Regions from separate parts of the Homo sapiens genome. Here regions 2 and 3 are each linked to region 1. Evidence: fine-mapped expression QTL. A gene starts in region 1. Each other region holds a variant in brackets. All regions are shown on one strand. Distances are between the middles of the regions.

Region 1 (2,762 bases):
ACTCTTAGTTCTTCTACATAATCCTGTGTGATTTAACTATTACTTTAATTCTCTTACTATTTATTGCATGCAACTCTTTTAATATTAGTACATATCATTTTAGACATAAATAGGGCACTACCTGCCAAAAAATCTTGCTACTGAGTGGTAATTGAAAGTCAAGATTATTTCTCAGATATATTAAGCTTTTCAAATGAGCTACATTTAGCTTTTCTCAAATTACTTAATATTTTTCAACAAAGGCCTATAATAGAGTATGCAAAGCACGTCACACTTAAGATTTTCAAGTTTGATCTGGTTACGAATCTGTTAATTGAAAATTTTTCAATATGGCAGAGCACAAAATATTTCACACAAATGCAAATAGAGATGTCATGCAGATAGCTGCAAGACGTGCATCATTGCCCTTCTGCATCAAACTCCGAAATTCAGAGGCAGTTCACTCTGCAAGATTTCTTGCTCAGTTCTTAAAAGTTCAGATGCATCACCTTTTAATCAGGGTAATAAGCTATAATTGCTAACATACTGTGTAACGTTTAAACCTGCAATCTGGACAAACAGAAAATTATGCTGTCACAGCCTGGAAACAACTGCAATCCACTGTTAACACACACATCCTCCTTAGAGAGAGCTGTCGTCGGGAGTTACATGCTTTATGGTTTTAATTATTTTTAGCGTAAAGATCTTTTCCCGAGAAGCAGGTATTAAGACGAAAGCAGCCTCCCAAATGACCTTCTCTAACACAGACCTTGAGCGAGCGACTGCGGGGGCAGAGAGCTGTGAATTTCAGCAAGGGATTCGACAGCTCCACCGGGTCCCTCACACTTTGCTTTCAAGAACAAAAAAAGAATGTTACTCTGCACCTGCCGGTGCCCCCACCCCTCTTTAAAACTTCATACCCCGCAAGGTCTGAATAGCCGGAAAGGGTATGCATCGATTCTTCTGTCCCGTGATGCCAAGAGAAAATAAACCCCCACCCAGGAGCGGAGCCTGGAGTCGCGGCAGGGCAGGGGGTTGGAGAGGTGGGTGCTCTCTCCCCTTACTGCGCTGCATTTTCTCCACCACGTGTAATAATCTCATGCCGCTGGCACCCCACGAGAGGCGGGGATCCTTGTCCTCCTGTCTCCCGGACGAGGACCTCAACCCCTTCCCCCGCTCGGGGACCCCGGCCACCCGCAGCCCGGCCGCGCTGCGCCCAGGTGCGGAGCTGCGGCGGTCTCAGGGCCCGGGCAGCACCGCAGAGCTCGGCCCCCGGCTGCGGCCCCCGGCGAGCTACCTTTTATCCAGGCAGGCGATCCACTCGGCAGAGGAGGAAGAATGGGCAGCGTGCGCAGCGACCATGTTGAGCGGCGGCGCGCGGTGTCCCTGGCTGCGGCGACCTCCCGCGCTCGCTCTGCCTGCGCCTCCGCCCCCGCCTCGTCCGCCGCGCGGACCCCGCTCCTCCCGGACGCCTGGCGACCAGCGCGGCTGCGACAGGCCCGCCCTCCCCGCGGGCTCCCGCGGCCTGGGGCGGTGGGGAGAGGGAGGGGACCCGGGGGGCGGGACGCGGGTGCGGGGAGGGCCGAGTCGCCCGCCCGCCCGCCGCTGCACTGCGGCGCCCGTGGGTGGGGATTCCGCCCCGGGGTGGGGACCCCGCGGTCCCGCTGCTGGGGGACACTGGGGGTGGCGACCCCGGTGGCCGGCCACCTGCGACAGGTGTCCGCTGCGTCCCTCGGAGACTGGGGCCCCACCCTCACCCCGGGGCCTCTGAGGCGGGGCGGGAGGGCAGGCGCCAAGGCAGAGTGGGGAGAGGGCTGCCAGTGTCTATATATTTTTCATACAGCAAATGCTACTAAAATGGCTGCTGCCTCTCTGTTTCCTTAGAAACCCATGAGTCTTCCTCAGCAGCTGTCGAAACTTGCCGGCGGTTGCTTGCTCACCTTTGCTGTCTCCCCTTCAGAAAAGGCTGGAGGGGAGGGCGAGGAAGGCTTGGCGTGGGGACGCCCGTCGAGTCTCTCAGTGAGGAATGAGAGGCCAGCTTCTCCTGCGGGGTGAGGAAGGGCTGGGCGCAATGGGGGGCAGTGCGGGCAGGGCTGAGGGGCAGGGAGGGAGGAGGCCGGTGGGCCCGATGTGGTCTGAGGGGGTGACAGGCTGAAGTCACTGGCCTTGAACCCTGGGCCTGCCTGGGCTTCCATCACCTGCATGGTGAAGAAAACACAGTTGAGAATGGGGAGTAGCCGGGCCACAGCAGAACCGAGACCCCGGACGCGCAGGTGAACTTGTATGGCTGGCCCCCTTGCTGTTCTTCCTCTGGCTGGAGTGTTGAATGGGTGGTGATAACGGCCTGTCTCTTGTAGATGTTCACACAAATGTCATGTCTACAAGTTATTCAGTTACACTCTGCCAAGAACCAAATTACACGCCAATGGTTGTTTAGGAATTTGCGGACAAGTTAAATGTTTTGGACTATTACCAAGCACTGTTTTGATATTTATGGCACTACATTTGGGGCCAGACAATGGGGGAAAGGGACATAGCATTGCTTTCTTCTACTGTTCCCTGCCTCCTCCCCCCACCAAACCTCCTATCCAACCCTGCTCAGGGGAGAGTCAGGGGGACTGGAGAGAAGGAAAGAGCAAGTGCTTTCTGGGATGCTTTGATCCTAATAAAACAATTATTACCATGATATAAAAGCCTCCAAATATGTGCCATTTCCCTCTGCTGGATAGCCAGGATCTAGTTTCAGACCTGCCACAGTGTTCCCACAGCAACTCCTCCCTCCC
Region 2 (2,762 bases), 270 kb before region 1:
CATTAGCACATAAAAGGCCTGATATATTAATGTTCAGCAGAGTTCTACTATCTTTCTCCATGGTAAAAGCAAAACTGGAAGAGACACACAATGTGGATTAAGAACAGAAATACGTGTCAGTAGCTCAGGGCTCAAATCTTTTCTCTGCTAGTAATTACCTTTCTCTGAGCAATTCATAAGTTTTCATTATTCTAGTTTATTGATTTAGAAAAATAGCAGTAAAAATACTGACTTCTTCATAGGGCTGCTATGAAAAGTTCCAGATGTTAAGCACTTTAAAAATACTCCACTAAAGCAACTGACTAATGAAACATAGTTAAGTATTTTACTATCCCTAATATCCCACGTTAAAAACATAGGGGTTAAACCACTTGTTCAAGTTTGCATTATACATCCCTGTTGCTTGCAGGTGTTCTGTTAAGCAGTTTATGATGCAATATAGTGTCTTGAAATGTTCTTAAACTCTAATTAAAGGTTACAGAATCATTAAAATTTAAACAAGCTTTCAAATAAATAAGTTGTGAAGAGAGAGAGAGAAAAAAAAAAGGCAAACTCCAGGTTTGGAATCATCTGGAGAACTCAGCTATTTGCCCTGGGCAAGCCACTCCTTTTTTGTTTTTTTGTGGGGGCTGGGGGTAACTTCAGGACCCTGATTTGTAACACAAAGCTAATACTAACCCAATAGAATCCTGCCAGGATAGAGTGGTATAATATTGGTCAATGCTCTTAGCATGCACCTGACACAGACAGAGCTGATTCAAAATAGAACAGTGAAGAGAATCTAAGTTCCCACAGGGCCAGATATGAGCCAGGTGGTCTGAGGGACCTAGATAATACAGATTATACCCAGTCACCCTGGATTCCCCCGTCTACAGACAAAAGAAGTCAGATTTGACGTCACAGCTCTTCCACGCCTGTTTGCTTTCTTGCCTTCCCCTCTCCCTGCCCGCCAGTATCATTTTTCCCCCTCCTCCCTACCTGGGCATGGAACGGACCTTCTCTCCAGAGCGCTATTTTAAAAAGAGAAGTTAGTGATTTGAATGTTCTCAGTCAACCCTTGAAGGGGAACAAGCTAATACACGAAGAAGTTAGAATCTGAAAAAAAAAAAGACAAGCGCAGTGTTTGGGGCTTGGACTTGTAAAGATGCCGGGCCTTGGCCC[G/A]CTGAACTCGCTGACTCGCCCTTGAGTTTTGTTTGCCTTAGGCTTATCTGCTAAAAAAAACCAAGTCTAAACTCAATGGTGGATTTTATTTTTCCTTCCAGCAAATCTCAAAGGTCTATAATGATTAGTGCGTATGGAGTTAAAAGAGCACAGACATCCTGAATTTGTTCATTTTACTCGAGAAAAATTGAGTATGTGCCAGAAAAAATATATAATGTATGTAAGTCTCATTAAGCCATCATTACTCGGTAAAACAGTTTCCAGGCAAATAAACACACAAATCTCCCTCTTGAAGCTGCCTCTGAGTTGCACCTTCAACTCAAATCTCCTGTCCTCATACATTGTTTACTTCAAAGAGAATTATGAGTGAACAAGAAAATGAGAATCAGGTAGGGTAATTATAATCTTGAATGAGGAAAACATGCCAACATTCACTGAATTCCTAAAAAAAAAAAAAAAGAAAGAATAAAAGAGTCATTCTCCTTCAATATATTTAACTGCTCAAAAGGGCCAAAGTGATTTGGGGTCTAAATTTTTGTTGTTCTAAAAATAAAACAAAATCTTAGAATATACTTTCACATGCTCCCAAAATTGAGTGTGAAGCTTATTAATAATACCCACTTCTTTTATTCCACTCCCATTTTCTGAGAATGTTTGCTCTGTGCTACATACCAGCATCAACTGGGCCATTCCAAACACTGTTGAAAAGCTGTCCCAAATAAACTTGGCCTTCAAGCTATAGAGAGGAATTGTCACTGGAGTTTCAAATTTTGGGTCTTTAAGTCAGTAAGATGATAATAAAAAGTAGTAACAAAGAAAGAAATTTTGGTATCTAGAGGAGAGGATAGACGAGGATGAATGGGAAAAGAAAGTTATCCTACAGTGATAACTTGTATTTATCTCAGCAGCTTAGCAATTTAATACCATAGCTCGGAGGAGGAACACAAGCCGACCACAGTCCACCCTGCCAGGGAACAGTCTGTCTCTGAGGTTAGGGAACCATTCCTGCTAATACTCCCAGGTTCTTCTCCATAACCCTTTCTAGCCTGCCTCCCAGGCAATGGATTTTTTTTTTTTTTTTTTTTTTGCCAGCATCACCTTCCTGTGGTAAGCTGGTTCACACTTCTCTGCACAGATAATGGTACAGTTTGGATGTTTGTCCCTGCCCATATCTCATGTTGAAATGTAATCCTCAATGCTGGAGGTGGGCCTGGTGGGAGGTGTTTGGTTCATGGGGGTGGACCCCTCGTGTCTTGGTGCTGTCCTTGAGATAGTGAATTCTCATGAGATCTGGTCGTTTAAAAGTGTTTGCCACCTCCCCCACCTCGCTCCTGCTCCCCCTTCACCTTCAGCCACAATTGTAACTTCCCCAAGTCCTCCCCAGAAACAGAGGCTGGCACGATACTTCCTAGCAGAACTGCCAGTCAATTAAACCTCTTTTCTTATAAATTACCCAGCCTCGGGTATTTCTTTATAGCAATGAAAGAATGGCCCAATACAGGTAACAAGGAGGAAATCCTTAAACATGGCACAGCAGACCTCTGCCAGGCAGAGCTAGAGTCTGTACAGGGGAAAACTGTGGGAAATGTGGGAAAACACAT
Region 3 (2,762 bases), 270 kb before region 1:
CAGAAGTGGTTTTGGATTTCAGATTTTTTTTTTGGATTTTGGAATGTTTGCATTATACCTACTGGTATGAGAGCTAAAAAAACTTCGAATTTTGGAGCATTTTGGATTTTGGATTTTCAGATTAGGAATACTTAAACTGTAATAAAGTATTTCTCACCATCTGGAAGCATTAAATCAAAATCCTTAACAGAAGGAACGAGGTCGTAAACTCACTGTTAATTCCTGCACTTTCTAGCTAAAGACTGGGCACACAAAAGCCTTCAATATTTTTTAATCAACTGATTACAGATAATTTATTTGCACTGTTTGGAATGCTGTATCTAATGCACTTTTCTAAAAAAACAAAAAACCTTTAAAAATATCACAGCTATTTAAGAGCCTTTAATTAAGTTACCCGGAATCCCATCTTGTCAAGATGTCAAATACAGATCAGAGGTACATTCTAAATAAATTCATAAAGAATTTAATTGTAAAACATCTGGTACATCTTTTAAATAGAATCTTTCAGTTATTGGGTATTTAATCTACAGGATGACAAACTTTCAGAGTGACTAAATCTTCTCGGAACTGAACCACCTCCTTCAGCATTGTGTACATGTGACTGAGAGCAGATTGGATCTGTTTGCAGTGAGGCTTTAGGGCTGAGAATCAGAAGAGGTGAAGGCCACAGTGTAGGCTACAGTTTTTCTACCCTGCCAACATCAGGCTTAATATTCCATTGAGTCATTTTCCTCATGCCGGCTCTGCCGTTCAAACACTGTAATTATTTCATATATTTTTACCTAGTTATTATCTTACTCACCACAGGCACCTGTAATTTTTCTGTACTTTTTTTTAACTGCTCATTTACTTATTCTTAATTCAGCTAATAATGGTTCCATGTATTAAAATTATCATGGGGAAAGTAAGTGAAAACCTCCCAGGATGTAGAGGCAGCAGATTCATTACAGCCTACAACAGGGAATAAAATATTATGTATACTTTTTGCAGTAAGTACATGCTAATTATGCAGCTATTTATAAAACACTTAACAACATTCAAACTGATACTCTTCAATGTTGTTGTTTTTTAAAACCCTGCTTTGCATACAAGATCTCTGCTTGCAGCTGAAAACAAACTTTGGGGGTCATCTGCCCACTGACAAGACAAAGCTTTTGTATATTCTTTATAACATGCCATATTCCTCTCCTGATGGTATAATAATAACAGCAACATATATATGGGACTTTAAGGTTTATAACGTATGTTCACACACATAACCTCATTTGATTTTCACAACAACCTGGTAAAGTGGGTAGGGCAAGTATAATGTATTAGTCCATTCTCACACTGCTGTAAAGAACTGCTCAACTCTAGGATAATTTATAAAGGAAAGAGTTCCACAGGGCTGGGGAGGCCTCAGGAAACTTACAATCATGGTGGAAGGGGAACCATCATGTCCTTCACATGGCACCAAGAAGGAGAAGTGCCAAGTGAAGGTGGGAAATGCCCCTTATAAAACCATCAGATCTCATGAGAACTCACTCACTATCACGAGAACAGCATGGGGGGG[C/GC]CACACCCGATCTAATCACCTCCCACACAGTTCTGCCCCCAACACATGGGGATTAAAATTCAGATTACAATTCGAGATGAGATTTGGGTGGGGACATAGAGCCAGACCGTATCATATAATTACCCCTATTTTACAGAAGGGGCTTGGAGAGGTTAAGCATAATTGCTGAGTAATATAGCTTATAGGACACAGGTCTTAAACACAGGTCTTTTTACTTCAGAGCTTTTGCTTTTTTTTACTATAATCTGGGCTTCTTGTCTTTGTGGAGCAGCCTGACATTCTGACCACTGCGTCTATTTCTTCCTTCATATGGCATGTTCATAAAATGCAAGTTCTGAAATTACACTACTTAGGTCCCATCCTGGCTTCCCTACTTATATAAAAACTGTATGATCTTTGGTAAGTTAATTGACCATTTAGAGCCTTGGTTTCCTCATCAGTAAACTTCATAAGATTGCTGTCAAGGATGAAATGAGATAATACAGGTAAAACATGTATCTGAAACATATTAAGTATTCAGTAAATCTTAGCCACCAATGTTATTACTGATTCTTCTCTGGAAGTCATTTAAAATATTTTCAATGGACTGTTGTGGAATTTTTCATAAGACCTGGCATTTCTGGGTTTAAGTCTGTGATGTTACTCCTATCCACACAGGCTGCTCCTTTGTTTGTGTGTACCTACTAACTTTGAGCTCATAGGAGCGCCTTCTGTACCATCAATTTCTTTACATATCTCCCATTTTCTTGCTCAGAATATTTTTCCCACTGATTTTCAGAATCCTCTGTGTTTTTAGAAGTCTCTAGTTCCTGGCTATTCTCCTTTTAAGTCTCAAGCCAAGGGCTTGTACTCATAGCACAGCAGTTAGGACGTGCCCTAATGCAATACACTGCTTGGGTTCAAATCTTGTTCTAACATTTACTAGCTAGGTAGCTAGGGGCCAATTACCTAGCTGCTCAAGCTCACTTTCCCTATTGTGAAAAACAAGACTAAAAGAGTACATAGTGTTGATATGAGGCCGAGAACATGTATATGAAATATTTTTTAGCATATCTGATGACAGTCATTTTTTTCCCAAAAAGCATATCATGTTCATAACATCACCAAACAAAGTCTTCCTCATGGAAACAAACTCAAATTGCATATCTGCAGAAGCAAATTCCTCTGACGGTGACATATGGATCAAACACTTTTCAGAATCAGATGGGGA

Alleles and levels. Alleles are on the strand shown, and positions count from the first base shown. SD is a standard deviation of normalised expression in the study named.
For the expression in ovary of the gene that starts at base 1,480 in region 1, A is the low allele of the variant in region 2 and G is the other (large effect, 0.76 SD a copy in GTEx).
For the expression in stomach of the gene that starts at base 1,480 in region 1, allele GC in region 3 goes with a lower level than allele C (small effect, 0.15 SD a copy in GTEx).

The links. PIP is the estimated chance that this variant, and not a neighbour inherited with it, causes the effect. A credible set is the group of variants that fine-mapping cannot tell apart.
Region 2: its variant is the best candidate, but not a certain one, in a credible set for the expression of RAPGEF4 in ovary (GTEx, PIP 0.68).
Region 3: its variant is the best candidate, but not a certain one, in a credible set for the expression of RAPGEF4 in stomach (GTEx, PIP 0.63).

Annotation. Positions count from the first base shown.
Region 1 is chr2:172,734,563-172,737,324 of GRCh38, reverse strand. It overlaps RAPGEF4 (Rap guanine nucleotide exchange factor 4), which reads right to left and starts at 1,480. Exons shown (of 31, transcript NM_007023.4): 1 at 1,277-1,480. The coding sequence starts at 1,341. RAPGEF4-AS1 (RAPGEF4 antisense RNA 1) reads left to right here and starts at 1,119. Exons shown (of 4, transcript NR_026995.1): 1 at 1,119-1,199; 2 at 1,864-2,030.
Region 2 is chr2:173,001,480-173,004,241 of GRCh38, reverse strand. The region is part of intron 17 of RAPGEF4 (Rap guanine nucleotide exchange factor 4); the gene reads right to left. Among named protein-coding and RNA genes, the nearest start is that of MAP3K20, 73 kb to the left of the region's middle. The variant G/A (reference allele first, on the strand shown) is at 1,162.
Region 3 is chr2:173,006,860-173,009,621 of GRCh38, reverse strand. The region is part of intron 17 of RAPGEF4 (Rap guanine nucleotide exchange factor 4); the gene reads right to left. Among named protein-coding and RNA genes, the nearest start is that of MAP3K20, 68 kb to the left of the region's middle. The variant C/GC (reference allele first, on the strand shown) is at 1,553.